2 separate regions of the Homo sapiens genome follow, and region 1 is linked to region 2. Evidence: fine-mapped expression QTL. Tissue or cell type: testis. Region 2 holds a variant in brackets; the other region holds the start of a gene. All regions are shown on one strand. Distances are between the middles of the regions. Region 1 holds the start of EDEM3 (ER degradation enhancing alpha-mannosidase like protein 3). Region 2 overlaps EDEM3 (ER degradation enhancing alpha-mannosidase like protein 3).

The links.
Region 1: it holds the start of EDEM3, and the variant in region 2 is fine-mapped to the expression of EDEM3 in testis (GTEx, PIP 0.99).

The regions. Positions count from the first base shown.
Region 1 is chr1:184,747,884-184,764,100 of GRCh38, reverse strand. It overlaps EDEM3 (ER degradation enhancing alpha-mannosidase like protein 3), which reads left to right and starts at 9,243. Exons shown (of 20, transcript NM_025191.4): 1 at 9,243-9,612; 2 at 14,509-14,554. The coding sequence starts at 9,455. LOC105371649 (a long non-coding RNA gene) reads right to left here and starts at 8,927. Exons shown (of 3, transcript XR_922357.4): 1 at 8,568-8,927; 2 at 6,002-6,077. RefSeq lists enhancers at 8,990-9,089, 9,560-9,659.
Region 2 is chr1:184,704,450-184,720,666 of GRCh38, reverse strand. It overlaps EDEM3 (ER degradation enhancing alpha-mannosidase like protein 3), which reads left to right. Exons shown (of 20, transcript NM_025191.4): 10 at 1,099-1,224; 11 at 1,422-1,505; 12 at 3,044-3,127; 13 at 3,655-3,779; 14 at 8,069-8,234; 15 at 8,790-8,944; 16 at 10,120-10,273; 17 at 12,323-12,514; 18 at 13,859-14,024. Among named protein-coding and RNA genes, the nearest start is that of EDEM3, 42 kb to the left of the region's middle. The variant T/C (reference allele first, on the strand shown) is at 8,720.

The DNA.
Region 1 (16,217 bases), 43 kb before region 2:
TGTCTTGTTCATATGTCTGATAGAGTCTGACATAGTTGGGGGATGAAGGTCCTTGGATTTTGGAGGCAATGTAGTATAATTTGGGTGATCATATTATTTATTGTTTATATTGGGACAGTTTTGAAAATGAAAGGGGGCACTAATCAGGATAATGATATGATTTGGCTGTGTCCCCACCCAAATTTCATCTTGAATTGTAACTCTCGCAACTCCCATGTCGTGGGAGGGACCCAGTGGGAGGTACTTGAATCATGGGGGTGAGTCTTTCTCATACTGTTCTTGCAATAGTGAATAAGTCTCACGAGACCTGATAGTTTTAAAGAGAGGAGTTCTCCTGCACAAGCTCTCTTTCTCTCTTTGCCTGTCACCATCCATGTAAGATGTGACTTGCTCCTCCTTTCCTTCTGCCATTACTGTGAGGCCTCCCCAGCCATGTGGAACTGTAAGTCCATTAAACCTCTTTTTCTTCCCAGTGTTGGGTATGTCTTTATCAGCAGTGTGAAAATGGACTAATACAGATACCATGAAAATGATTTAAATCTGGTCACAAGCAAACCAGAATTTATGGTCATCTTAGTATGGTAGAAATAGTCTGGACTTATATCCAAATTTTACTACCATTTCCCTGCTTTTGACTTGTGACATAACCTCTCTGTGAACTTCATTTACTTACTTTTTTTTTTTTTTTTGAGATAGGGTCTCGCTCTGTCACCCAGGCTGAAGTGCAGTGGTATGATCATAGTTTACTGCAACTTTGAACTCCTGGGCTCAAGCAATCCTCCTGCCTCGACCTCTCAACGTGCTAGATTATAGAAGTAAGCCATTGTGCCTGGCCTGACCTTTATTTTCTACATCTGTAAAACAAGGATATAATTCTCACATGGAGGAGGGGAGAAAGTGCCTCATATGTTCTTTGTAGATATTATTATCAGTATGATGTCTGCCAATATACCCCAAAATTATTCCATATAGACAGTATATCTTGTATGGCTTAGGTTAAATTACAATCAAGGTGCAGTCAGTTGCACTAATCATAAATTCATATTCTAAGATGGCAGGTAGTGGTCTCATCAGGCAGACCCCTATAGAGGTGGGTACTACATCTGTCACTCTTATCTCTTTAATAGCAAAAATCATTCTATAACATATGTCAAAAGTGAATTTTCATTGTCAAAATTAGTGGTTTGTCAGTCATCACAACAGATATGACAAACAGACTCTCATATAATTAGTGATTTCCAAGATACAAGGACTGGCTAAAATATTTTAGAGACACTCTCATTCTTGCATGAACAAGTTACAAAAAGCCAGATGATTAGGGATGGTGTGTGAGTTGAAGGGCTTCCGGTTGCCAGATGCTTATTGTAAGGGTGATGGAATTCTAGCTCTGGAATATTATTCATCTGCTTCCAGTGAATCTTTCATGCAAGGTCATGATTGCAGAACCTAAAAAGACAGAGAACTGGGACCTCATCAAACTCACAGAACAGGTGTATCACCTTGTTTCTGTTTGCTAACACATATTTGTTTAATAAATGTCTGTATGTGTGACAGAAATCAGCCTGATACTTGATTTAATTTTTAACTTGGTTTAATTGTTATGAAATTGTTGGGAAATAATTTTCACCCCAACTCCTATAATTTGACTACTACGTCTGTCTATCTACTAAAAACAAGCCAGTAGTTTTGCATGATTAAACTGTAATAGTTATTTTACTCTTTTAAACCACTAATCTGATTCTACATCTGGAACCTCTGCTCACTTCTCTTGGCCATATGAACTGAGAAAAACAAAACCAAACCTGAATCTTAGAGAAACAGACTTCCATAAAATGGTAACTAGCAGATCTAAATGTAGAACCCAAGTCAGCTGATTCAAAGTTCAATGTTCAGGAATAGGCACAAAGCAAATGTGTGTGTGTTTATGTGTGTGTGTGCACGCACACGCATATGCATGCAGAATGAATTGGAGTAGGAAGGAAGAGGAAGTGATGTGAAGTGATGCAGAGAAAAACCAGGAGAAAACATTAAACATTAGAGTGGGGGCCTTGGGAACCCAGAGATTGCGCTAAAATTGGGTGCAAGTCTCCCAAAAAGGGCTAGGAAGGCTCTGAAGATTATATTTGCTTAAGAGCTACTTCTGTAAATAATAATGTCTATTAATCTCTAGCAATGGATGAAAAATAGTACATTTTGTGCACAATGAAACTATACTTGCCTCATCATCTAGTGCCAAGAAAAATATGGTGATCTTCAAGAAAGCCGTGTATCTAACACCACTCTCTCAAAGTTTTAAGTATAATCATGTATTTGAAGGTTGTATACTGATTTTAAAGTATCACAAAGAGATTGATCTGCAAATAAACCAAGAACTCTTTATTCTACTTCTCATCCATCACAAACCTTTACTACCCCCACTTATTACCTAAAAGCCCTACCTGTAAAAAATCAAGCAAAAAACAATCCCAACCAAAAAAACTCCAAACTTATCAATACATTTGGAGAAGAAACAGAAATAAGCACTGTTTTCATAGAACTTTAAGCTGGAGGCCAGGAAATATTTAATTTCAAATATTTAAGGACTGTCAGCATTTACCTCTGAGGTTAAGAAATGCTGGGGATTGACAAATTTGGACCACTCTGAGGATTACAAGAACAGGAAGAAAGGGTGAAAAGACAGTACTACAAGTATGTGTATACAAATACATACATGTGCAATATATGTATATTGTATATGTGTATATATTTATATATACTCATATACAAAACATATATGTATATGTATGCAAAGGGAGCTCCTAGGAAGAACACAGGGTTTGGATAACAATTCTAGGAAGAATGTCGGATTTGGATAATGAGAAATGATAGGATCATTACAGAAATAACTTATTTTTAATTCTTAAGTGTCCTAATGTTGGGGATTACTCTACCTAATGCTTTTTGACAAGATCAACTGGGCACCTTTCACTTTGATCCTTAATTTCATAATTAGATAACCAGTAAAACTATCTTTCTAAATCCCTTGGAGGTTGGAGGTAAGATGAGCTTTTACAAAAACAAAGTAAAACTGAAGAAAGTCACACAAACAAAAAAGCTGCAAAGATTTTCTGACAACTTTATTCCAGAACGTTTATAACTTCAAATGTCTTACAAATGAAGCCATTATTAATTTTAAGAGGACAGAAAAGTACCTTGTGTTTTTGTGCGTATTTACTCTAATACAGGGATGAGGCGCTATAGCTCATACAAACTGTGCCTGAATTCAACAGTCTCTGGAGTTGCTGGCCTAAAGAGGGCTACATTTTTGGATGGGGAGCCTGCAATGGCAGCACGAAGTAAGCAAGCAAAGGAAGTAGACAAGATTCAGGGCTGGGGCCAGGCATGGTGGCTCATACCTGTAATCCTAGCACTTTGGGAGGCGGAAGTGGGAGGATCGCTTGAGTCCAGGATCTCAAGACCAACCTGGGCAACATGGTGAGACCCTGTCTCTCTTTCTCTCTGTTTTTAAAAAAATAATAATTAAAAAAGAAAAAAAGATTCAGGGCTGAAAATAAAACCAGAGCCATGGGTGCTGTTGGAGCAGCTGCACTCACCCTTGAATCCTACTCTCAACAATGGCGATGTTTTCTCTTTACCTCATAATCATGATATGGATACCTACTATTTATTGAGTTCCTTCAAACTGTACTAAATATTTTACACACACCATCTCATTATCTTCACAACATCCCTAAAAGGAAGGCATAACAATTAAACCATTTAATCTTTCTAAAAATGCTGTGAGGTAGGTATTATTCTTATTCTCATTTTACAAATGAGGAAACAAAAGCACAGAGATTTAGTCATTTGCTTAAGGAAGCCCAGCCAATAATCAGCAGAGCTGTCTCAGAGCCATTGTTCTTGGCCTGAATGGTACCTGTGCAACTGTTGTTGAATGGTGCTCACCTAAATCCTGTGGCCACACTGTACCAATAAGTGGGAACTATGCTGATGGTGAAATGGGGATTTAAGAGAGGGAACAAACACAAAATGTACTCCCTCGAAGAGCCATGTGACTTGGTTTTGCTTCTGATACTTGAAGTAAATGGAAAATGGCCACTAAATAAGTGACCCAACCAAATAATCATGACACATGAGCAAACTTTCTTGCCTGAGAGAGTTGGAGCTAGTGCCAGTGAGAGAAATGGGATAATAATCTGAAGGTGAAGTGATTTTGAAGATCTCAAATCAAGATGGAGAGGTGGAAAAAGCCCTGGGGACATCTTTTGGGGAGGTGAATCATCTGAATCTCTCATTCTCTTTCTTAGAATTTGAAAAAATCAGTCCGACAGCCACGCAGGAAGTCAGTTGACGACATTCACCGAGTATCTTTGTCATGAGGTGCTCTTTCTAAGGCCTCAAAGTCACTAATTGTGAATGCAGAATAATTACTGTCTTTATTTAATGTTTGCAAGATTGGGTTCTCTAGAAGAAAACTGTTGTCAATTCTGCATGCTATCAAAGAATAGGAAAAGCAATTTGAAGAATGACAAAATCACCACTCCCAAATTCCATACTAGTTTCAGGAGTAATTAGAACTGTAGTACTAAAGAATTCAAATCATTTAGGGGCAACTGCTGTTCTATGACCAGTTTTGCACAGCTGGTCCCAGCTTCCTAGGACTATTTCTGAGCCATAATATTAAAATGGAGCCCCTCCCTGTGTTTTTGAATCCATATGGTTCTACCCAGGGCTCCTATCCCTCCCTAACTTCTGACACATCCAAGCAGGAAAGTGAGCATGCATATTTACATAAGCTACAAGGCTGTGCAAACAGATTGTTAACTGGTTAAAGGGCATTTTAGAAATGGCTGTTATTTCTTACCATTTTTAATGGGTTTTATACATAAAAAATCTTTATATCTTTAAAAGTTCTATCCTTATTCTTCTGATGTGCTTTCCACCAGTCTTTTTCCCTCTGTACAACACTAGACTCTCTCAATTAACTCGTACATCCTTTTTATCACTAAGTGTATAGGTTTTAAAATAACGTAAGTGAATTTTTCCTAGTGTTCATAAAGTGCCAATTAGCTGAGAATTTCCATTATTTTCATTACGGGGTTAAATACGTTTTGTTCTGTTTTGTTTTGTTTTTGTTTTTGTTTTTTTTTTGAGACAGGGTTTTGCTCTTGTCACCCAGACTAGAGTGCAATGACATGATCTTGGCTCACTGCAACCTCCGCCTCCTGGGTTCAAGCGATTCTCCTGCCTCAGCCTCCCAAGTAGCTGGGATTACAGAAGCCTGCCACCACACCCGGCTAATTTTTGTATTTTTAGTACAGACAGGGTTTCATGATGTTGGCCAGGCTAGTTTCGAACTCCTGACTTCAGGTGATCCGCCCACCTCGGCCTCCCAAAGTGCTGGGATTACAGGTGTGAGCCACTGCACCCAGCAAAAAAAAAAAGTGTTCTTTTTTGAAATGCATTTTGCGAATATATTTTTCTTTTATTTCCATGGGCTCCACCTTTGATAAGTTTTAGAGCTTTTAGGTCACACTAGATTTTCTACTTAAGGTTGCTGAGATCAGTGAAAAATAGACTCAATCATTGGCTAGAAATTGAGTTTCAACAAGGGAAAAAAAGATACTTATTATTTAGCAGTTCGAAAAAGAATTATGTTCTGGCTTCCCATTATAATCTTTAAATATGCAGCGTTAACTTGAAAACAAACAAATATGCTAGAAAATGTTAAACATTAAAAGCCAGTACTTCTTCTTTAGTATGTTCTTAATGATAGTTCATAGTCAATTTTGACTTCTTATAAAGGGTTGGAACATCAGGAAGGTAAAGAAAACTGTGTTATTGTTAATAATCCACTTCAAATTATTGACTTGACTATATTTCCATATAACTGAATGTCACTGTTTTTCTATTTTATTTGTTCTTAGTTTTCAAATACCATATGATTGGTGTTGACCTTTAGTTTGTAATGTTCTCTATGCAAGAGCCAAGACCAACTCACATGTATTGATTTAGCTAACTTCATTACCAAGGCTGCCAAAGAGGATCCAGGATGAAACCAATGTTGGATTGCAGATCTGTCCAAAGAAAGGATAATATTAAATATTGTACAGAAGTGACCTCATGTGTTTTCATAGCATCTATGTAAGTAGATAAAAGGACTATATTATTCCCACTTTTTAGATAAGGAAACTGAAGGAATACAAAAACAAGTATATTCAACATTTACTGAGCATCTACAGCAGGAGAGGCACAGTGCTAGGTGTTTCAGAATATCCTTATGCTATAATTTGAGTGTGTCCCTCAGAATATCTGTGTTGGAAATGTGGTCCCTGGTATGGTGATCTGGGGAGATGGGGCCTTTAAGAGGTGATTAAGAGGGATTAATGCTGCTCTCTCCGGTCTGGGTTACTTCTTGCTAGAGTGGGTTCTTATTCTCTCAGGACTGGATTAGTCACCGCCAGAATGGGTTGTTATGCAGAGAGGCTGCCCCTCGTGTTTCACCTCTTTCACACGTGCCTGCTTTTCCACCATGTCATGATGCAGCACGAGGCACTCGTCAGAAGCCAACCAGATGCCGGTGCCGGGTTTTTGGATTTCCCAGTCCAGAATCGTAAGAAATAAATTACTTTTCTTTATAAATTACCCACTTTCAGGTATTCCATTATAGCAACAGAGAACGGACTAAGACAACCTACAAATAAGCTAAAGTCAATACTTTTCATGTGGTTAAAATGTAGTGGGTATGCAGACTATGAAAAACACAATAACAAAGACACAGAATACCATGGAGGCACAGAGAGAGGATAACTTCTGCTAACTAGAAGGTTCTGGAAGGGTTTTGTGGAAATGGAATCTGAGCCCAGCCTTAACAGGTGTTGAGTGTTGTACAAAGATGATGGGGTAGCATAGGAGATGGTGTGAGCAAAGGCATGGAAAGGATACAGAATAGGAATTATTTAGTTATCACATAGGATTTGAGGGCAGGGCAGACTAGAAGGAAGAAAGAAGGTATTCAGAGGGTTTGCAGATGTTCTTGAATACCAATTCTGACAGCCATGTATAGAGGAGAGTAGGGCAGCAGGGAGATAATCGGTAACTTCAACATTAATGCTGCCAAAGAGGACTAGGATGGAACCAATGTAGGATTGGAGATCCATGCAAAAAAATAAAGGATATTAAATATTGTACAGAAATGACTTCATGTGTTTTCACAGCATCCACGTTAGTAGATAAAAGCAAGGATCCCCAAGCCTGGGGCAGTGGACTGGTACCAGTCAGTTGCCTCTCAGGAGCAGCAGGCGAGCAAGCATTACCACCTGAGCTCCACCTCCTGTCAGATCAACTGCGTCAGAGTCTCATAGGAGCATGAACCCTATTGTGCACTGCACATGCGAGGGATCTAGGTTGCACGCTCCTTATGAGAATCTAATACCTGAAGATCTGAGATGGAACGGTGTCTCCCCCACCCTGTGGAAAAATTGCCTTCCACAAAAGTGGTCCCTGGTGCCAAAAAAGTTGGGGACTACTGGATAAAAGGACCATATTATTCCCACTTTATAGATAAGAAAACTGCAGGAATAAGGAAGCAAGTATATTTAACATTTATTGAGACACTGCAATAGTTTAGGAGAGAGGTAATGGAAGCTTGAATGGAGCAAAAGTGGGAATAGAAAGAAAGGTAATAATCTGAAAGATAGAAGAGGTAAAATCTATATAATTTGGTAATTAATTGCACGTGGACCCCGAAGGCTAAAGATGAGTTGACAATGATTCCGATGCATTAATTTGAATCAGAAAACATCTTACGTTTGAGCTACCCTTGGGCTAGACATTAGGACATTTCTATTAGGGAGGTGGAAATGTGGGTCTAATGATCAGGACAGATATTGATTTAGAAATCAACCACAGAGATATGTTGGCTGAATCCTTATGAGAAGAAATCACCAAGGAATAATTAGAGTACAGAGAGAAAAAGGACAAAAAGAAAACCTTAAGGGAACACCTGTATTTTAATATAAAGTAGCGAGAGAATGAAGGAAAACGGGTCAGCCAGAGAAGAGGTAAGAGGTTAAGAGGTAAGAGGTAAGGTGATAAAAGTCAAGGAAGAAACGTTTCCAGAAAGACCGCCGAATACTGCTTAAAGGACACGTAAGTAATTTACTGTGGTCACAGAGATCACATCGAAGCTCCTAAACTCCGCACCTATTGAATGACCACACTAGAAAAACAATGTGGTTTTTCAAGAGGAACCGATGTGTCATTTTACCAATAGTTAACCTGGGACTCGGTCATCAAAATTCATTGCAAGTTCCAATCTCCTTCATTAAACCTTCTTTGCAGCCCACACAGCTCTCCTTACATTGAGCTTTTGAGGTAACTATTATTAATCATGTACGAGGACCCACGTGCTCCTTCATCCTTGTAGTACTGCGCGGTGGTTAAATGCAAGGGCTTCCGAATCAGAGGCTGGATGGATTCTAATACAGCAGTGTGACGAGCTCTTGTTAACCAACTTTTCTAAGCCTCTGTTTTCTCGTCTGCAAAAGGGGGATGGTGGTACTTACTCTATCAGAGTTGAGAAGAGTGCATGAGATGATTGCGAGTAAAAACCTTAGCGCAATGCCTTCAAAGGCTCAATTCATTTTGCTGTTACTGTGTTTTGGAATTTCCCTGAGGGTAGACGACTACTCCAACACTATTCCCTAACGCAGCAGCACTGACATGGGGACAGTGCGCCTCATTCAGCCAGCTCTCTGGGAAACAACTTTCTGAGGAAGAGAGATAAACAGCTGACGGGTTTCCCGGGACTCCGCAGCCCACCGAGACAGGGTTGACTGTAGGGCGCCGAGGAAAGGGGGAGGTGGGATCCCAGCAACCACTGGCGACCTCGGAGGACCGCAAGTCCCAGGGTGCAGCGCGCCTACCCCGGGTAGAAGCGAGAGACACGGCTCCGAGTCGGCTCGCGGGAGAGCCGGGGAAGAAGCAGTGCACACTGGGACTGGTAGTCCTCAGGGGGCAACTCCGCGGGTCGGAGGCGGGTCGAAGCGAGAGATCCCTTCCCAGTCCCGCCTTTTGTCCACGTCTCACTTCTCCTGGCCAATGCCCTCTCCAGTCGCCGGAGACAGCCCCTCTCCCATGAGGTCTCCATTGGTCCTGAGGCTCTACGGCTTCGGCCCTACCCGGAAGTAACGTTGGGGAGGCGGTTTCCTAGACTACGACACCGGAAAGCTGGGGGAGGCGCTCCGGGATACTGAGGGCGGAGGGCGGTGGCAGCGCTGGCGCTGGGGACCGGCTTGGTGGCTTCGGGAAACAGTTTGGCGCCGGCGGCCGTCCGTGTTACTCCGCATCCCGCCCCGTCTCGGCACGGCTAGCAGCCCCCTGGCCACCAGCGTCCAGCAATGTGTCTCACCGGCCGGGCGTAGCAGCTGCGCGTGCGCGGAACCGCGGGGCCATGAGCGAAGCCGGCGGCCGGGGCTGTGGGTCCCCGGTTCCCCAGCGAGCGCGATGGAGACTAGTGGCGGCGACGGCCGCGTTCTGCCTGGTGTCGGCCACCTCCGTGTGGACGGCGGGGGCCGAGCCCATGAGTAGGGAGGAGAAACAGAAGCTTGGGTAAGGGTGCTGGCAGCCTGGGGTGGGTTTCTCGGTGAGGCTGACAACAGGAGGGGTGCCTGTCATTGCGACCCGGTCGCGTAGTGGCCTCTCCTGTCGCGATTGGAACGGCTCTTCCCGCGCGAGAACCCTAGAGGGGTGGACAGGGTCCGGGGAGGTGGGAACCGCCGCCCGCGACCTGACCTCGGGGGAGCTGACGGGGTGTCGCCCTGGCCGCCGGTGACATGTGCAGGCTCCTTGAAGCCAGGCGCGGTGTGTCAACGCGGCTGCCATGTCAGTGGCCCAAGAAGGGGGCTACAGCCCGCATCGCTGCGCGCTGGAGTTCTGCGGTTGGCTGCCTGTCGACCGAAGCATGGTTAGCTTTCTCGCGCAAGTGAGCTTCCAACTGGGAAAATGTTGCTGATCTCACAGTAGTTAAGGAAATGATGTTTACACCTGTTACGGAAAAGGGGGCGTTCATTGGAACTTGAACTTTACACATTTTACTATTTCCTTGCAGTGTTTTCTTGCACTGTATTTTCATAATAGAATGTTTGGGGGGAAATTATTCAAAAGTCTCAAGTATACCTATTCAGTAGTTTTTATCCGTCTTGGAAGTGTGTTAAAATTATCAATTCTATTTACACCATTTAATTCAGAGTAATACATACACGAGGTCCTACACATGAATAAGAAAAAAGCGAAGAACCAGTAGGAAATGGGAGAAAGGCATGAACGGTTAAGCCAGAAGAGGAAATGGAAGTGGTAAATAAACATGAAAAGTTACTCAACCTCCATAAACGTAGGAGATGCAGATTAAAACGAGGAGCTAGCTGGTTTTTGCCCATCAGATTAGTAAATATAATACAAAACACAAGGATACGGTTCTGGTTAGTTAAGGAATAGAAAAAAAAGGCTTAGTGAGAGTGTAAATTGCTGTAACTTATTGGTAGTATCTACTAAAATTTAAATTGTGCACACTTTGATTCATCAGTTCTATTTCTGAGAATCTACCCTAAGAAAATAAAAGCACTCTTAATGCAGAGATAGATCCAGCCTGGGCAACAAGAGCGAAACTCTGTCTCGAAAAAAAAAAAAAAAAGTGCATTTTGAAAGAACAGCTCTTCCTTGGAGGAAATGGTTCAATAGGGTACGTTCATATTATGGAATAATATTGAGACATTAAGAAGAAGGAAGTACGTCACTGGAAGCCTATCCAGAATATATTTCCAAAACAAAAAAAAATGCAAGTTGTAGAATAATATGTATAGTATCATCCCATGTTTTTTTTAAAAAAGAAAAAAAAAATCTGAGCTCAGAAAAAAAGTGGAACGAAGATTATCTCATGGGGTTAGGCTGGAGGGGTGGTGGAACCATCAGGTCTTACTTTATGTACTTTAAATCATTGCAAAGAGTCTTGTATTCGTTTCTAAATAGCAATAAAGGTCACTTGATGGAAAAAAGCTGAAGTATCAACCATCAAAATAAAATTACCGGTAAACTCTAATAAATATCTTACATTTTCTCTCATATGAATTTAATGTATCATTGATAAGTTTTACCAAATATCTCACTCTGTGAATACTTTACATATGTTATCTCTGTACTCCTTCCTATTTCCCAATGAATATGATCCACATTTGCAAATGAGGAAGTTGAGACCCAAGGTTGACTTGTTCAGCCACAAAGCTAGTAATTGGTAGAGCCAGCATTCAAACCCAAGCCTGTCTGATCCCAGAGCCAGGCTCTCTCCAGTATGTTGCACGTTCATTAGACTTGGAAGAGAAGTATCAAGTCTGTTAAGAACCACAAGAATCTTATTTGACTATCACTACCCTTTCTTCATTTTTTATTAAAAACTTATTTGTAAAAGAGTCATTGGATAAATCATTTTTGACCAAAATTAGTTTTTAACTGGAAAAGTTCAACCAAATTGGCTTGAAATTTCAGCTCAAATTTTGAGATCATTTATGAAAGTGAAATTACAATTATTTAGGCTTGTTAGATTGCTCTACCCTTGAGTAAGGGTAGGGTAAGAATCTAGAGCTATAAACGACAAATACACAATTATATGACTGCTTTCTCTGGGAATTTTCAGAAAACTGAACTTTGATTCATTAGGTTTACCTGTGCATTTTTTAAAGCCCAAATAATGATTCATGATAAAAAGCAGAAAATGCCCCACCCCTTTCCCTCCCCACCAACAAACCAAATAGTTGATAAAGACTGGAATTGTCATGAATAGTAAGCAATTGCTCAATAACTTACACTTTGTGGAATTACTTAGCTGGTTATATGTAGTCTTATCCTTCATGGAATAAGCTTTTTGGTTTTGTTTTTAAAATTTTGCAACAGGGTATTTTGTTAATGTTATGTTTTCATTAAAAAATGAAGTAGAAAACAATCCAGTTTCTATAGCACGTGGGCAGGAGACGTAACTTTAGAAAAAGCCGACTTGGCCTGGCATGGTGGCTCATGCCTGTAATCCCAGCACTTTGGGAGGCTGAGGCGGGCGAATCACCTGAGGTCGGGAGTTCGAGACCAGCCTGACCAACATGGAGAAACCCCTTCTCTACTAAAAACACAAAATTAGCCAGGTGTGGTGGCGCATGCCCTTAATCCCAGCTACTCGGGAGGCTGAGGCAGGAAGAATCGCTTGAACCTGGAGGCGAAGGTTGCAGCGAGCAGAGATCGTGCCATTGCACTCCAGCCCGGGCAACAAGAGCAAAACTCTGTCTCAAAAAAAGAGAAAAAGCCGACTTACAGAAATTACTGAAGAGTGGTGTAATTTTTGAACTGGGTCTGATTTCCAATACATTTTAATCCAGTTTTTGAATAGATAAAACATTATGGAAATTTTTTTTTCTGTTCAGTATAGTAATTATTATACCATTCTGTATTTAAATGTGACTTTGTTAGGCTTCTATGTGTAAGAGCAATGATATTAAATAGCTCCACTTTGAAATATGTGTTCTAAAATTTGCTCATCATATGCTGCATAAATGTAAGGATTGGAAAATAGTGTATTCTCCTTGTATGCAATCATGATTTACTTACAGTCTTGAAAATTGAATGCTTGTAAAGTTGAGTTAGCAAGTTAAAGCTTATGTCATTTGTAATATACATGTCTAGGCACTACCATTGCCAATTATAGGAATTTCTACTTCTTGGTAATAATCTCGTATTCCATTTCAGGGAAGGAAAAAAAAGAGGACTTCCATCTTCCATTCATTGATATGAGTTCCTGAAAGGGACATTTTAAACTTTTTTTTTTCTGCTTAGGACAGGATAAGAGTCTAGAGCTGTAAACCACAAATATAAAAATTATATATATATAAACATATATATATATGTAAACTTACAAAGAATTAGTGCTTTAGCAAAGTGGTGGTAAGGTCTTTTTTTAAATAATGAAATGTTTTTAAGTGGTTATTATTCATATGTTGTCAGGACTTAATTCGTTCACAAGTTTGAGTGTACTTGATTTTGTTGGTGTTCATAGTCAGGATCTGGAACTGAGGTCTTTTCTGTTTGCTAGCTCTATTATTACCAGTATTTCATAATCTGTGATTATAGTTTTAAAAATGACAATTGCAGTATAACAGGAGGCAAATAAAAATATAGTCAGCAATTTCTTTAACACTTTTTTCAATTCTTGCCATCAGTGATTGGAACTTTGGTAAAAGAAAAGTTAATAGGCCGGGCGTGGTAACTCACACCTGTAATCCCAGCACTTTGGGAGGCTGAGGCGGGTGGATCACATGAGGTCAGGAGTTCGAGACCAGCCTGGCCAACGTGGTAAAACCCTGTCTCTACTGAAAATGCAAAAATTAGCCAGGCATGGTGGCAGACGCCTGTAATCCCAGCTACTCGGGAGGCTGAGGCAGGAGAATCGCTTGAACCTGGGAGGTGAAGGTTGCAGTGAGCTGAGATCGTGCCACTGCACTCTAGCCTAGGTGTGACAGAGTGAGACCCTGTCTCAAAAAAAAAAGAAAAAGTTAATAAAAAATTGTTAAGCTGTGTTTTCCTTTGCTAATTATTTGGCCTTGTCTGGTCATACAATTAACTTGTACTTTTTCCTGTAGTCCTCAAGTCCCTGAACTTGAGAGTGCTTAATTGAAAGGCTGCTTCCTCAGTCGCAACCTTACAGGTTTTGATTTAGTAAAATTCTGGTGTAGTGATCAGACATCTCCATTTTAAACAGTGGTTACGGAGATTTTGTGAAACAGAATTCGCCAAAACACACAACTCTCTTTTTGAGCATTAGTTTTCTCATTTTGGAAGTGAATACTATTTATTTGATTTTTGACAGTTTTTTTAGAGTAGAGCACATCATAAAAAGTATCTTTTGAAAATATGACAAACATTAATAAATATGTACTTAAACTAGGCATTAGTGGTTTATTCAATGTAAGTGCAAAGGCAGAGGCTTCATAAAGCGTTGTTATTTCATGTCACTACACACCTGTGTACCTCTCTCTTAGTAGAACATATAGGGGAAGCAATAAATGGCAATAATAATGGTTTTTTTAAAGGGCTGTCCAGCAAAACCCCCGCTTCAAGACAGATACGTTAAATAATTGTGTTAAGAGGTCATTGTTTTTCTGCATCAGATTTCCTTCTCTGATGATGGCATCTATCATTCATCAGTTTTCTTAGGAAAAATTATAAGATGAATTGTACATAAATTACTAGTAATCATTAAAGTTTGGCTCAGCTCTGTGTGGTGAGTTCATGAAAGCTTGTCTGCTAGCTGTTGTAGTTTCTGATTCTGTTTATGTCCCTTTCTACCTAAATTTTTCTTTTGTTTTTATTGGTATATTTTTTATGAGGAAGAATTAACTTTTTGAAAGATAATAAATAGAATATACTTACCTTTTTTTTTTTTTTTTTCCATTTCTGCTCTTTTAAAATTAGGAATCAAGTACTGGAAATGTTTGATCATGCTTATGGTAACTATATGGTAAGTAGGAAGCTTATCTTTACCTACCATTTATGTGAGTTGATTATTATGTGAGCACAGTCAACTGGGAATTTTGAAACCTACAATACAATTACATTTTTTAAAAGGAAGTTTTTAAAAAACAGGGCAAAAATAGTCTTTCTGGTAGTGGTTTTTAGGGAACCAGTTTATTGAACAGATAAGAATAAATTGAAATTAGATTATGAAACTTCATTATTTAAACAGCTTCCTTGGGTGCCATCAACAATTATCATTGAGTGCTTTATATAGCTAGATATTGTGGATATATACATGAAGATGTTATCTCTGGTCTTAAGGGAGATTATTCTCTTAATTTAAAAAAATGTTTACAATATTTATACACTGAAGAAAACCATTGCTTAAAAGAGAAATTGTTACTTAGCCTCTGTCCTAATTGTATCCTCATGGACTCTGCACTGAATATATTTTGCTTTTTAGTTTGCTGATTCATATTATTTAAAAATGTTTTAGGGCTCACTTAAGATTAAATAGCAGTTTCAGTTTTACAAGATGAAAAGTTCTGGAGATCTGTTGTGCAACAACGTAGATGAAATAGCAAATTCTGGAATTCAAAAAAAATTTTGCACATAAATTGTAATTTGAAAAGAGTTTAAGCATATTATCCTGAAACTTATCCCTTATAACCTTGTTTTTACATTTTAAAATATGTCAGCAGATTTTCTTCTATGATTACAACGTATAAAATGTAGTTGGGAAAGTTTGGCAGAGGACTAGCTTTAGTTCTGCTTAAAATATTTTTCAACTGATTCTGTGAATCCATTTTTTATCATATATTAACCAAATATCTTCATACACTAACATCATTGTTATCTATGAACATCTAAATATATGTAATTTATGCATTTTTAGTTTTAAAACATGTTTTATATTTGACAGTCCTCGTTCTCTTTTATATTGTAAATTTGGAGAGAGCACATTTTGAGTTCTTAATGTTTTTAGGATATGATTTTTTTTGGATACATTTCAACATTAAAAACACAGTTTCAAATTTATTTCTCAAGACCTCAGTCATTCCCTTAATGTTTTTTTTGTTTTTTGTTTTTTGTTTTTTTTTTTGAGACGGAGTTGTGCTCTGTCGCCCAGGCTGTGGAGTATAGCGGCACTATCTCAGCTCACTGCAGCCACCACCTCCCAGGTTCAAGTGATTCTCCTGCCTCAGCCTCCTGAGTAGCTGGGATTACAGGTGTGTGCCACCATGCCTGGCTAATTTTTGTATTTTTGGTAGAGATGGGGTTTCACCATGTTGGCCAGGCTGGTCTCGAACTTCTGACTTCAAGTGATCTGCCCACCTCTGCCTCCCAAAGTGTTGGGATTACAGGTGTGAGCCATTACACCCGTTCTGTTTTTTAATTAATTTTTTTTTGTCACCCACATGTCAACCCTTATTTCTTTCAAAATCATTTATCCCTGGTTAATTCAGTTTGGGCAAAGCATAATTTAACAAATCTAGGCTAATGATTTTGAGATGGCCAAGTGGTTCCATCCTATACCCTCAGACCTTAGCCATCTCATAAATGCGTACTGATGAATGCAGTTCCAAAGTTAAATAAAATAGCATATAGCTGGATAAGTTCAGTTTCTCACAATGAATAGGATCATCTCTTTATAAAGCATGGTATCT
Region 2 (16,217 bases):
ATGTTGTATGTATGAGACAGTATGACATGGTGATTAAAAGTATGGAGGAGAATGGCGTGAACCCGGGAGGCGGAGCTTGCAGTGAGTCGAGATCGCGCCACTGCACTCCAGCCTGGGCGACAGAGCGAAACTCCGTCTCAAAAAAAAAAAAAAAAAAGTATGGGAGATGTACTGGTTTAAATTCTGATTGTACCACCTACGGGTTTTGTGACTTTGGGCAAGTAACTAATATTATTTGCCTCTGTTTCTCATCTACAGAATGGGAGTACTAGTACTATTTATAGGGTTATTGGGAGGATTGAGTTTATGCATTCAAAGTGATTAGAGCAGTGCCTTTAACCTATGGCCAATATTCAATAATAGTGATTAAATAATAGGTAAATTTGCAAAAAAAAAATTAGTAAAAGTTAATAAGTCATTAATTGAATACTTTCTAAAATTATCACATAGATTGTTTATTAGATTATAACAAGAATTTCTTGAGGTAAATGGGGACAAATAACTATTTTTGTTGGCTTGTTATCACAACTCAACCTTTTGTCAAAGCTGAGAAATATCTAGGAGAAGAAGACAAAAGAAGGGAAAAAGAGTTTTCTAAGACCATAATAAGCTGAGATAGCAAACCATAAGAGTGGCAGCAGTGATTAGCTGCATTAGTTTAGATAGTAGTGAGCACCAAAATATTGTTAGCCGAGAAGGGATCAAACTTCCAAGATACAGGAAAAAGCAAATTCTGTAATACAGAAGCTGATAGCTATATTACAAGGGGACCTATGAGCATCAGTGGGCCGCAAAGTCATACCAACCACGGGCTAACGCCACAGGGCATAGAGATGTTCAGTTCCATTTTTCTCAGAAGGTCCTATATTACAGATAGTCTTTAATAGTCTGCATGTGAGTTAGAGGACATAAAGGAGTACATATATATTTTAGAAAGATCTCCATCTAAAATAACTTAAATATTTATATAAATTGGTAGTTATTTAGTGAATTTATATATAAATTCTAGTTTAATTTATTCACAGTGCTATTTAATGTGTTTAGAGTAGTACCTCTTTTTTCATCTAACTTTCATGAACACATGTTGTGATCTTTTAGCACTATGATGCCATAATGAGGTATATTAGCCAGCCACCTCTTCTACTTGATGTGCATATCCACAAACCAATGCTGAATGCTCGGACTTGGATGGATGCTTTGCTTGCCTTCTTCCCAGGCTTGCAGGTATAAAGAATTCTGTCTTCTTAATATGAATGTAAGATGATGATGTTAATTAGGCGCATTTTTGATCTTTAAAACTGAACTACAAAACATAGTTGCAGTTCAGAATTGTATTTGTATACATTTTTCTGTTTATGTAATGATTAGAGATAAAATCAGCTCATATTTTATTAGGTAATTTTATTGTTGTTGATTTCTAGGTGTTAAAGGGGGATATTAGACCTGCTATTGAAACTCATGAAATGTTATATCAGGTGATTAAAAAACACAATTTTCTACCAGAGGTAAGCAAATAATTTTTGGAATAATCTTACACACACACAAACACACACACACACACACGTACACATATACACTATAAGTTGCTAATATAAAGGTAGAAAATGTCATCTTCAAGGCTTGTTGGTTCTTTTTATTTTTTTCCTATTAAATAGTTTATTTTTGGTTTGTACAGTATTATATATGTTTTTGCTTTTCTTTGTGTGTTAAGAGAAGTCTGATTTAGGGTAATGCTGACATTTTTAAAATTTTATGTAAAAAAATTCCCAGCTTAGTTCTTCTCAACTCTTCCTAACTTATGCCATTGTAATATTCTCTCATTCTAACTCTTGTATGTACCTACCAGCTAGGGAGATTTTGTCACTTTTTATTTTCTAAAGCTTGTCTTATGAAAACAGTATATATTAGATATACTTTTGTTGTTCACACATGCCCTCTGGAAATGTATAGAATGCCATCTCTTCCTCATGCTGATTGAGAATTATTCTTCCTGATTTTTATACATCATATTAGTAATAAATATTCTTGCTAGCTTAATATGACAAGATTTTAATAGCATACTTTTTGGCTTCCCAGAAATGTACCGTTAAAAATTTCCAAATGTGTGTATGGCCTTGTTCTATCCCCGCTTATTGACTACCCTCTGTGAGATATCTAAGCATTCTACCAACTTAGAAGGGTTCCTAAAGTGTTTGTTTTGGAAAGTATAGTTTTATTAGCCTTCGGGTGAGTAGGACTGTGCATTGTAGAAAATTCATATCCATACAGAATAAACTGAGGTTTCAATTAATACATCTATCACAAATGAAATTTTTATTTAGCTCCCATAAAAGTTTTTGTTTGCTTTTATTTTTATTTTCTTTTAAAAACCAATTGATTATGTTATTGAATAAATTTCAAATAGACTAATTTTATTTATTTCTAAATAATGCTCTGTCTTATTCCACAAAGGATTTGAGGCTTTTAGAAAATATAAGCTAAAATATGAAATATGTATGCTTACACATTGCTAAGAGAGATTTTAAGTATTCTCACCACAAAAAAAGAGAACTATGTGAGATAATGCATATGTTAATTAGCTTGATTTAGCCATTTCATAGTGTATAAATATATCAAAACATCATGTCATATACCATAAATATATGTCACTTTTATTTGTCGATTTAAAAAATTTAAAAATAAATATGAGAACTAGGAGAGTAATAATCCAGAGGAAAAAGTAGAGGGAAGGATAAAAAGAAAACACAATTATGTTTACCACCAGGACCCATGTAGTGGCATTGCTGAGTTTCATTATGGAGTTTTTCTGAGTTTTCTAATAGCCAGAATGATCACTGAAAAAATAATCAATTTAATTGGTAAAAATAGCAGCCTTTGCAAAATGAATTGTTATTTTAAGCAATGAAAATTGATGTTTTATTGATGAAAATGTCCTGATTGCTATTTTAATTGCTTTTACCTATTTATATATATTCTATATATTCTGGAACTACTTGTGTATTTAATCACATTTTTTATGCCTTTTGTATGTTGTTTTGTTCAGGCATTTACCACAGATTTCAGAGTACACTGGGCTCAACATCCTTTAAGGCCAGAATTTGCAGAAAGTACCTACTTCTTATATAAAGTAAGAAAATATACCCCATTTTACTTAAAGTTTAGCCTCCATTCTCTGTTGGATCTCTCATTCTTTCATAATAGTAATTGGGTTTTCAGAGTCCCCTTTTAATATTATAATGATTGGATATATCATGATTCTTATTCATCTAGTCCATAGAATTATTGAATGATGCAAGAATTGACATGCAAGGTTTTTTTCTTTAAAAAATATTATGTAAACATTTCTTTAAAGAGAAATTTTATGTTCTAGAGCTGCTTTCTAAAGCATGTCTCTTGCCTTTCTTCAGGCAGCCTTTCTGAGCATTAGAAATTTAAAAACTAAGGTTATATAGTTAAATTTTATAATTGTGTATTTAAGAAATTCTGTAAAGCAGATTCATAGCTTTTTTTCAGAACTCAGTTCTATATAATGTCCTTCAGTGCCTGATACAGTGCCTGGCACCTAGTAGGTACTCAATAAATATTTGGTAAATGAATGGATATGTGGTAATATATAAGCTATATATATTATACATATATTCTCCTTTTTAATAGGCTACAGGAGATCCTTACTACCTTGAAGTAGGGAAGACACTTATTGAAAATTTAAATAAATATGCTAGAGTGCCTTGCGGATTTGCTGCCATGAAGGATGTTCGTACTGGAAGTCATGAGGACAGGTAAAACAATTGCTAACATCCTCTTTCCTCAGGGTCTCTCTGAAACAACACAAAATGCAGCTACCATTTAGGATTCAAATAAGTTTAATTCTTTTACAAAGGATAGAAACCTTTGTTCCTTGTGTTTACTTTTTTAAACTCTGTTGAATACACTAATTTTAATTTGTTTGAAAAGTTTGTATTTTTATCATAGTGCCTGGCATATAGTAGGTGCTCAAATGATTTTTAAATAAATGAATCGATGATTGTTAAATATCAGAACCTTGGTGTTAGGACTATCTAAAATGTGGCTTTTTTTCTTCTTTGATAATAGTTTCCTTTTATATTACATAAGACATTAGAAATTACCAAGATGAGGAATGATCTGGAATGTGATTTGTGTTCGGCCAAGAATTCCTCAAAAGCTGTGTGTACTTACACCGTTGCTGACTTGCAGGAGTGGGAAAGACCAGTGGTAGTTTCTGTTTCATTAGACACTGGATAGATGTAGATGGTATGAAGTATTCAAGCTATAAAAAGTGCTCCACATGAAATTCACAAGCATTCTCCTTATTCTAAGATCACTTATCTGGTTATCACATCTCTAAATGAATGCTGAAGCTTATTTGTTCATTTGGTTAGCAAATGTTCATTCCAGAAATATTTACTGAGGCCCCTTATGTGCCAGGGCTCTTACTAGTTTTTGAGGATTAAAGATATGAAGATAAGTCCTTTCTGTCTTTGAATCACTGAAGGCAGGCCAATAAGCAGACTTTTAAAACATTGTATATGTGTTTGAAACATATTAAAGGGGCATGAAGCACAAGTTGGGATGTGATAGTCAGCGAAGGGTTCCTGAAGGCTCCTATGTCCTGAAGGATAACCAAGAATTAGAAGAAGAAAGATGTAAAAGAAGTTCCAGGCAGTGAGACTGAAGACATGAGAAACACAGCACTCATCATCTACCCATAGAGTTGTCCCTTAGTTCTTCACTTAGTGTTCGGATAATGGTTAATTAGGCTTCGAATCTCCATCCCTAACCACAGCTAATGAGAAATGGTTAGGTTCTGGAAGCAGGCATACAAGTAATAGCAAGAAATAAAAGCAGATACCTTGTGTATTTATTTGCCTGTAACATTTATTGACTGTTTCCTATACTCCAGACAGTCTTCTAAGCATTTTATGTGTTTAACTAATTTGATCCTTACAACAGCTTTCTGAAGTGTACTATTACAGTCTTCATTTTAAAGGTGAAGAAACCAAGGGAAAGAGAAGTTAGGGAACTTGCCTAAGGTCACACAGTTAGTAAGATTAAGTCAGAATTCTAATCTAGGCAGATTGGCTCTTGACAATGATGTTATACTGGCAATTCATTAAAGAACAATAATTAAACACCTACTGTATGCCAGCCACTGCACTTAAGTGTGGGGTAGAAAGATAAAATAGAACCAGTCCCTGCACTCCCATGACTTGTAGTTAGTGAATAAGATAGGTGTGTAAAGAAATAATCACAACCATGTGATATGTTCTAAAATACAAAAGAGGTAACAAGTTGAAGAATTGCAGAGGAAGACATGATTTACTGTTCAGAATTCTATTTTTCAAAGTGTAACATCCTTCTTTTTTTCCCCACCAAATACTCCTTTTATGACATTGTTTCTGGACCTCTTACCACTGACATTGCCCCATTCTGATTGCATTCCAGTATATATAATAACTCTTAAAATATCACATCCAGAATTAACCATACTCAAGATGTGTCTGGCACACAGCACCATAACTGTCTGTATTCAGGCAAAGGGTCACTAATGTTCTATGAGGCTGATGAGTTTCCACCCTCTATCCAGTTGAGGACCACTGCTTCATTGACTCACTGTTCCTGAGGGGATTGTTGTGCCTCTCAGATGTCTTTAGCCAAATGAAAGGTTAAGAACTACCATTCTTCATCATATTGTGTTATTAGATGTGCTTTAGATTTTTTAGGAGCTTTATTATGTTCAGCTCACAGTGAGCTTGTGATCAACTAGTTTCACATACTTAACTGTATGGTCTGCTGACAAATGAGTGTTCTCCACCCTGCCTTTGAGCAGCCAAGTTTTCTTTTTTTTAGTGTAAACTTAGAACTTTTATATTTAACTCAGCAAAATTTCTTTTTTTGTTTTGTTTCTAGATTTTGGTCTAGAGGTTGAATCTCATTAGCTAAACTACCAGTTTTCAATGATCTATAGTTTAGATGAGCATACCTTACATTTTTTTCATCCAAACTGTTAGGAAGAAGTTTTGGTTGGACCCCAACCAGTGCCTTGTGGCACTGCACTCAAGAGCTTTCAGTTACAGGCTCTTTGCATGTGGTGGTTTATTACCCTATAGATCTAAGCACTATCACTGTCCTCCAGGTTACCATCATCTACACAGACACAGACATACACACACACTTTTCACAATGGAAATATCTGTATTTTCCTAATCATAATTACTGAAAAGAATGTAAATGGCAAAAATAATAGGAAAATATTTGCTAAGACACTGTCCCCTAACTGCGTAAGATTACCACTGTTAGCAATTTTATAAAGGCTTCCAGACATTTTTAATGCCTGTGTATTTTTATTTATGTATTTTTATGATTTTAAAATATAAAATAGATCATATGATCTGATGTTCAACTTGCTAGCTTTGCCCAATTCATATTGTAGTTATCTTACCATGCCTTGTTCTTTTCTAAATGTTTACAAATTGTCTATTCTAGTATTTGCCAATTATCAGTATCCTGCTCATCTGTCTGCAGTTCTCAAGATAGCATTTGCTCATGTAATAACTGTCAGTCCATCAGAAAAGGTTGAATTATGATAAGTGTATTGCAGATAAACAGGAAAGTGTTTTTATATTGTCTAAAAAGATTAATATCCAAAATGGCTAAACATGTTTTGAAACATTTCAGGTGAGTTTTTGTTCCAAAATAAAAAATCATGTGTATGTAGGAAAAATGATAGCTGTAGTTTCAATCTCATATGTATGCCAAGTGCTATGCTAAATAATTGACATTTAATATCTCAGTCTTCACACCAATGTCATGAGTGTATTGTTATATTCCTTTTACAGAAGAATAAACTGAAGCTCATAGTCCTTATATAATATCCCCATGGTGACAGAACTAATTAGTGGAAGATCTTTCTATTTCCAAAGCCCATGTTCTTTACTTCTTTGTTCTACTCCCTCTCCAGCTCATTCTTTAATCACGCTGTTTAAACTTGCATTTAATTTAGTAAACATTTATTGAGTGCCTACTGTGTGCCAGGAATTGTGCTTGGCCAGAGGTATGAAATTGTGCAACTTGTCCAGTAAACTAGAAGTTGTTTATTACTGCCAAAACCTATGATGCTTTGGGGAGTAGTGAATTAAATTTGATGTTACTATGACTCCATCTACCAGCTATGCTTTTTTCCTGACACTTTTAATTTAAACTTTTCTTAAATTGTTAAAACATTATAACATTAAATCATTTGTAAAAACACATATAGTTTTACTGTCTTTATTTCTCCACATTCCCTTCTTAACAGGTAAATAAATATTTAGCATGTTATAATCATAGCCCGTGTGACTTTGCATTGTACTTTTTTCATGTAACTATTTTTTTCTTTTTTTGAGTCGGAGTCTTGCTCTGTCACCCAGGCTGGAGTGCAGTGACACTGCACTCGGCTCACTGCAATCTCCATCTCCTGGGTTCAAGTGATTCTCCTGCTGCAGCCTCCTGAGTAGCTGGTATTACAGGTGCCTGGCACGACACCCGGCTAATTTTTGTATTTTTAGTAGAGACGGGGTTTCACCATGTTGGCCAGGAAATTACATGCAAGTAATTTCTTTACATTTAAAGCCTTCTTTTTAAATCACTTAAATAGCTACATAATAAATTCCGTCAAATTTGTATGACTTTTTCCAGCTCTCTAATTTAATGGAAGATTCTTATATGATTCTCACTAGTAAAATTTATCAGTTACCTCCCTGCTGTTGATTCTCTATAGAAGAAATGGAGAACTTTCCCTCATTGAAAGGCCTATAGAAAAATCTTGTCTGCATTATTCACAAGATTCAGTGTATCAGTGTGGTAGACAACTCCTCTGGTCTTTTTCATTAACATAGAATATACTTGGAGTCAAGGTTATTCTGCCCCTGGTAGATTGATACATTCTATAGTTCTTTGAACATCTAAGTTGGTATAGACAGGATTATTAACCTTGACTCTATGGCTTTCATATAGTTGGCATTTAAATTATTTTTATCTACTTATATTTATTTGTGACTTTTTATTTTAGAATGGATTCTTTCTTCTTGGCTGAAATGTTTAAATATCTTTACCTGTTATTTGCTGATAAAGAAGACATTATTTTTGACATAGAAGATTACATCTTTACAACAGAAGCTCATCTGTTACCTCTTTGGCTCTCTACTACAAATCAAAGCATCTCTAAAAAGAACACAGTGAGTTTTTAAATGAAATGTCTTATTCTCTTTTTTATTTCTACATGTTTTATTTTTCCAAGTGAAAAGTAATCCATGAGTAGAATTCAATAAATATATGTATGGTAAGAATAAATATATACATTTTCCTATTTTTTTTCTTTTATTGCATCCTGTATACACTTATATATTTCATTAACTGTTTCCTTTTAAAAATTATGTTGAGTAGGCCAGGTGCGGTGGCTCATGCCTGTAGTCCCAGCACTCTGGGAGGCCCAGGTAGGTGGATCACAAGGTCAGGAGATTGAGACCATCCTGGCTAACATGGTGAAACCCCGTCTCTACTAAATATACAAAAAATTAGCTGGGCGTGGTAGTGGGCGCCTGTAGTCCCAGCTACTCGGAAGGCTGAGGCAGGAGAATGGCATGAACCCAGGAGATGGAGCTTACAGTGAGCAGAGATTACGCCACTGCACTGCAGCCTGGGCAACAGAGTGAGACTCCAT[T/C]TCAAAAAAAAAAAAATTATGTTAAGTAAAATAATTATTTCTGTTTACATAAAATGTTTTTCTCTTGTAGACCTCGGAATATACAGAACTGGATGACAGTAACTTCGATTGGACTTGTCCAAATACTCAGATCCTCTTTCCTAATGACCCATTGTATGCTCAAAGTATTCGTGAGCCCTTGAAAAATGTGGTGGATAAGAGCTGTCCTAGAGGCATCATCAGAGTGTAAGATGTATTATTTTATATTTTCTAATATCAAAGTTGTTTCTTAGTAAATGACAGAGAACTTAGGGAGCATGTATCAACAGCCAAGAAGACATTCACATAGGCCGAAAATGTTGAGGTATGTAGCTATCACTGGTTAAAATAAAAATTAGTAGTAAAGTTAGATAGTAAAGCTTATTTTGCAGTAATATCTTTTTTATTATTTTGGAAACTTTCAATATATCTTTTATTTTATGAACTAAGGTAATAATAGTGGGCAGCATGTAACAGTTTTTAACTTCTATAACTCATTTTTCATGGAATAGTTTCATCGAATATTTTCTGGCCAGGCATGATAGCTCACGCCTGTAATCTGAGGACACTGGGAGGCCAAGGCAGGTGGATCACCTGAGGTCAGGAGTTCGAGACCAGCCTGGCCAATATAGTGAAACTCTGTCTGTACTAAAAATACAAAAAATTAGCCAGGCATGGTGGCAGGCACCTGTAATCCCAGCTACTCGGGAAGCTGAGGCAGTAGAATCGCTTGAACCCAGGAGGTGGAGGTTGCGGTGAGCCAAGATCACGCCATTGCACTCCAGTCTGGGTGACAAGAGCGAAACTCCATCTCAAAAAAAAAAAATTTCCTTTTGTCTATAGTTTCTGTGTAGTGAAAATACAGGTATTTTGTTTGTTTGTTTGGATTTGATTTTTTGAGGGAGTACTTATTCTTGCTTGTTAAAATTGGCTTAATGAGTTCATTTTCTGACGAGTAGTTATATTAGGCCATTGCAAGGACTTTTTAAAAATTATTTTTACATAAGTGTTATTATTCACTGATGCAAGTATTGATTTGCTTTTAAAATATTGGGAGAAAAATCTGTGTTTTTAAAGGATAACATCAATAGTAACAAATCCCCAAGCAAACTTGTTCTGTACCTTTAAATAGTTATAGTTCTCTTGACTAATACTGCCTTATATAGATAATATACAAACTTTTATAACTAGAAAATGTTATATTTGAAAGCTATACCACTTGTTAACCTAAATTATATGTAAGAAAATACTTTCTAGTTATTCCAGTTTCACTAGTTCTAAAACTAGCAATTTTGCAAGTAACATTATTTTTATTTGACATGTGTTTTTTGCCAATTCTAATTTATAGTTTTTTAAGCCTTGCCTGTAATTACTTTTAGCAGAGAGGAGAGTTTCAGGAGTGGAGCTAAACCCCCTCTGAGAGCCAGAGATTTCATGGCCACTAACCCTGAGCATTTAGAAATCCTGAAGAAGATGGGGGTGAGTTTGATTCACCTCAAAGATGGGAGAGTCCAGTTGGTCCAACATGCAATCCAAGTAAGACATTGCTACACTAATTAGATACCGTCTCTGCCCTGCTTTCTTTGGTCGCATTAGCTTTAATAAGATAATGGATTTCAACTTTCTAAACACTTTAAATATACTGTTTAAAGTGAGAGAATGAGAATTTTAGGACTTGGAAGTATCTTGGAAAGTCACCTAATTCAACTCCTTTATAGTATAAATCAATTAAATAAATCAGAGCTAGGTTGGGTAATTTGCTGAAGTTAATATAATCAAATGCAGGACTCAAATCTAAGTTTTCTGTTTCTCAGTCCATTGGCTTTCCCCTGTTACTTTTATTTACAACATAACTTCAAAAACTAGTAATTAGTTTTAATATTCATATCTCCATGTTTTACATCATTTTAGTCTCCAAAGAGCTACTGAATCTTAAGTATTTTGTTCATCATAGGTATTTATTTGTCTGTGCCTAGGAAAAATAACATGTCTTTTTGAGAAATTTTTATTGATTTTTACTTTGAAAGTTTTTATAACACAAAGTTTTTAAATTATTTACCTTATTAGTATATTGATTCTGAGAAAACCACATAGTTTGCTGAATAATTTTTAACCTAGAACCATATTCAGGTATCCTTTAATCTCAAATTCAACCCTCCCACAACTTCATCACACCCTCAAGTTTTCATCTCATCCATATTCTTGCCACATCCTTCCTTCTTTTAAGAGTATTCTTCCTTCTTCCTTGTATTTTATTTGGCCTCAGTGGGAGTGACATCTCTTGTGACATTGCTTTTACTTACTTAGGCTGCCAATGGCATAATTACTGCCAAGTGGCCTCTTGATCCTTATATGATTTAACTTTTCTGTAACTATTGGCTGAACCCTTCATAAAACATTTTCCCTTTTTGGCTTCCCAGGATATTTCAGAAACAAAGTTCTTTTTCTACTTCACTGTTTATTGCTTTGTAGCTCTCCTTGGCACAACCACTCAATGTAAACAGTTTCCAAGAATCTGGATGATATTCTTTTCTCTATATACTCTTCTTCAACAGTGTCACCTATTTCTACAAGCTTAGCTATCATTTTTATACATATGACTTCTTAGCTATGTATGTGAATCCTGATTCCTAAATTTACTATTAAATTCAACTTTCATCTACCTCTCATACATCTTGCATCTCAATCTCAATCTGTCCAAACTTGAATTATCTCTTTCTTGTTTACTCTCTTTCTACCCTCACCTCAACCTATGTTTCCTTCTTTGGCTCTCCATGTCAGTAAAACCTATCATCATTCTTTAAGTCATCAAAGCTGGAAATTTCAGGATAGGTTTGAACTCTTCTTCTCTTCCAGTTCCTCTTATCCTTTTCCATCCTCTAACTTCTATCATGTCTTGTTGGTTTTTCCTGTAAAGTATCAGGAATCATCTTATTTTTTTCTATTATAGTCATTCTTCAACTTTCCCTCTGTTAAGACTCAATTCAAGTGTCATTCTAAATCTTTCCCAGGTACACACAAGCAGAATCAATTGTTCCCTCATCTGTGCTCCTTTTCCACTTTCCCACTTGAGAAATTTTATCATAGCTAACTTTACATGTCTTTCTCCTCCAGACACAAATTTCTTAAAGGACTGTCTCTCCAATGCCTAGGCAAGTGCTGAGATGGAATAAGTGCTTCACAGATATGTTTTGAATCAAATTGAATCTGGTTGTTCACTATTTCAAGGAGGGAAAGTGTGGGTCAGGTATGAGGTTTATTTCTTCAGAGGGAAAGCCAGTGGGGAGAATAAGCAAAGTGAGCATTTGAGCATTCGCTAGAAGTCCAGTTCTCAATCTGAATCAAAAGTGGTTTATAGAATAGCGAAAGTGACATTGATAAAAAATACGGATAAGTTATTTTCAGAAATACTATTTCTGAAAGTATTATTTTTGAGTACAAATAAGGTCATAAATACTTGGTGGTGACCTAAAGTGAAAGAAGAAGTTGTAGAGTAGAATACTACAGTACAGTGTCTTTAGGAAATCAAAAAATTGGTGGAAGTTTCCAGAAAGGAAGGATAAAATGAATTTGTTTTTTTCATAGGCTGCTAGTTCAATCGACGCTGAAGATGGGTTGAGGTTCATGCAGGAGATGATTGAATTGTCAAGTCAGCAACAAAAAGAACAGCAGCTGCCTCCACGAGCTGTACAAATTGTTTCCCACCCATTTTTTGGCAGGGTAGTATTGACTGCTGGACCAGCTCAGTTTGGGCTGGATCTGTCTAAACATAAAGAGGTATGTATACTTAAAATATAGTTGTTGAAACTGAATTTAAAATATTAAGTATTGCCTTATTTCTTAGTCTCTTCTCTAATTTAGTAGTTTTAATTTATTTAAAAAACTGAAATAGTCAATCTCCTGGATTTAAGTAAAGTAAAAGCATGTCTTGAAAACTTTGAGTCATAATTTATGTATATAATATGCTTACAGAATTTTAACTAAAATATTATTCAGGTTCTATTCAATTTCTTGGTCTCTTCTCTAATTTAATACCTGTAATTGATCTAAAAATGGTTTTCAGACTTTCTAAGAGCCACTAGAACCTTTCTTTGAACAAAAGTCTAAACCAGGAGCTTAATGTAGAAAACAGCTAAAAGCACAGAAGCTCTGGCTCAAGTGACTGGAGAAAGCCTGGGACCCTGAGGTTCCACTGGGCAAACTTTGAAGATCATTTAGCTAGTCCATCCTCTATAGTTGTAACATAGTTATAACGTAGAAAACAAAGACTTACATAACTAAGCAATTCACAAAGTTATCTAACTAATTGATTGCAGAGCTGGGACCAGAGCCCAAGTATCGTGACAATCTAAAGCCAATGCTCTTTTCACTCTATTACTGCTAATTTAGACTTTTTTCTCATGTATATTTTAAACTATGTAGAAGCTATATAGATTGATTGATTCATTCAACTGTTGATTGAGTGCCTACTATATTCTGTGCACTGCTTGCTGTATCAGTTTACAAAACCAATGAAGATCCATGCCCTTATGGAATTTACATTTTAGTAGAGTGAAGGATATTAAAACATCTTTATAGTAACGTGTTTAAAAAAATTAGTTCCTTGGTGGATTTAATTTTTTTGGTAAAAAGAACTGCTTGCAGATTCATATAGACTAAGTCCATTTTTTCCCCTTTCAAAAACTTTTCTTGTTACCAATGATCATTTCAAATTAGTTCCCAGCTATTGTAAATGTAGTGAATCTGCCTGCAGGTCCCAACTTTACTGCTTAGTAACATCGTGTTAACATTGTGAGCAAATTACGTAACCTGAGTCTCAATTTCCCCATATGTGAAAGGGAAATGTTATTTGTATTGTTTTGCTCAGGGTCATTATAAATAACAGATTTTGTAGTTTATATAAAAATGTTCTATAAACTGCAAAGCACACTAGAAATATTGGTTGAGTACTGTGATATGCAAAATGTTTAAAACAATATTTTATGGTGACTATATGTTAGATACGTTATCATTAGAAAAGAAATGAGTTCTAGTTCTTTTAAAACTCTAGATATTGAGGTTTAATGACTTGATTGCCATTTGAGAAGATTAAAGTATTTAAGTTGCTTTTATTTCTGACAGACAAGAGGATTTGTTGCAAGCAGTAAACCATCCAATGGTTGTTCAGAGCTTACTAACCCAGAGGCAGTGATGGGAAAAATCGCACTGATACAAAGAGGACAGTGCATGTTTGCAGAAAAGGCACGCAACATCCAGAATGCTGGAGCCATTGGTGGCATTGTTATTGGTAAGTAATCATCCATGTCATTGTGTTGACTGAAGGGGAGATAATTTTTAGGATTTTTTCCCTTTTATTTTCTAAAATTTTATCAAAGAGTTTGTCATAGTTTTTTTTACCTCACCTAGACAACAAGGATAGGTAATCCAATGACTTTTAATTTCTAGATATCTAACATCTTTTTTAAAAGTCTAGATTTGAATTTCTGTATATTAATGTCAGTGAAAATACTTGGGTTTAGGTGTGAGGGTGAGGTAGGGCTGAGTAGTAAAAAAATTCAGTACCATGGATAAGAAAAGGTGCCCATGAGATCCATAACCCCCGAAGGGCAAGAATTACACTGTGCCACGTCCAGTGGGGAGCCATTGAAAATTTCCATTACTCCACAAAGATGCAGGCTTTGGAGGCAGACACATGAGAGTACAGTTCCTGGCTCTACCACAAAATTGCAGTGTAACCTTGGCCTAGCTTCAGTTTTTTAATCTGTAGATTAAATAGTATAATTTTTTTTTATTTGATAGTAGAATATTTTTGAGCTCCAGTGGAAGTGATAATAAATATATTTTAGGTGATTGTAAGGTTTAAAGATATATAAAATTTCTTGGCATAATAGCAGACATAGGATAAGTGCTACTATAACAGGGTTTACAGTATTGCTAGCAGATCTTTATCCCCTTGGATCTTTTTCTACCGAAATGACAAGTTACCACCTTTAAATCATCTTACCTATATGTATCAACTAGTGGGTTTTGCTTTTTTATCTTTCATAGACAATCACTTATATCATGATAAACAGGCCATGACTATTAGGGGAAATATAAATTTTTCTGTTTTAAAGTAAATAGGAGTTTACATTCAGAAAGAACTGTAAGACCTGGGCTCACAATATGCTGATTGTGAGTTCTTTTGTACAGCTTCTCTCACAGGGAAATCCATTTTGGATTCCCCCCTCCCCTGCCGCCCAATAGTTAAGGTAAATAAAAAAAAATAGTTCAGGTAAAACAGAATATTAACACTTATTATGTTGATTTAATGGATGCATAAATTTTATTAATAAACATTAGGAGAAGTCCTGTTTAATGACTTAAATCAGCAGTTGGCAAACTACAAGACTATAGGCCAAATCCAGCTCATTGCCCATTTTTGTAAATAAAAGTTTTATTGGGACACAGTCATGCCAATTTGTTTGTGTATGGTCTATGACTGCTTTGAACTGCAGTGATGGAGTTGAGTACTTACAGGAGAGAACTACAAAGCCTGAAATATTTATTCATCATCTAGCCAGTTACAGAAGAGATTTGCCGACCCCTGACTTAAATCATGCTCTTTATCCTTGGGTATTTCCCACACTTAGATTAGTTTTATTGCAGAATTTATTATATTAACCATCACTATCATTTTGAACAGTTCTTACCAAGACTTCAAAATGAAAATGTAAAGTATAAAGTGTAGAATTTATGCATTAATGTTTAAAAATATTTCTTTGTGTAGTATTTTGGTTTTTTATATTTTTCAGTGAAGTCTAATTCTCATGATCTTCTATAGTATGCAATAATTGTCAATTTTTGTTTTGTTTGTTTTGAGATGGTGTCTTGCTCTGTCACCCAGGTTGGAATGCAGTGGCGTGATCTTGGCTCACTGCAACCTCCATCTCTCAGGTTCAAGCAATTCTCCCTGCCTCAGTCTCCCGAGTAGCTGGGATTACAGGTGCCTGCCACCACGCCTGGCTAATTTTTATATATATTTTTTTCTTTTTAGTAGAGATGGGGTTTCTCCATGTTGGCCAGGCTGGTCTTGAACGCCTGACCTCAGGTGTTCTGCCTGCCTTGGCCTCCCACAGTGCTGGGATTACAGTCATGAGCCACCAAGCCTGGCCCGTCAAATGTTTTTTTTGGTAGCTATTAGTTGGAAAATGGTATACTGGGTTCTGTGGATAAATAAATAAGAGATGATGATCCTTACTCTCAGAAATTTTTTTTTTTTTTTTTTTTTTTTTTTTTTTGAGACAGAGTCTTGCTTTGTCACCCAGGCTAGAGTGCAGTGGCATGATCTTGGCTCACTACAACCTCCACCTCTAGGTTTAAGTAGGTCTTATGCCTCAGCCTCCTGAGTAGCTGGGATTACAGGCACGTGCCACCAAGCCTGGCTAATTTTTGTATTTTTAGTAGAGAAGGGGTTTCGCTGTGTTGGCCAAGTTGGTCT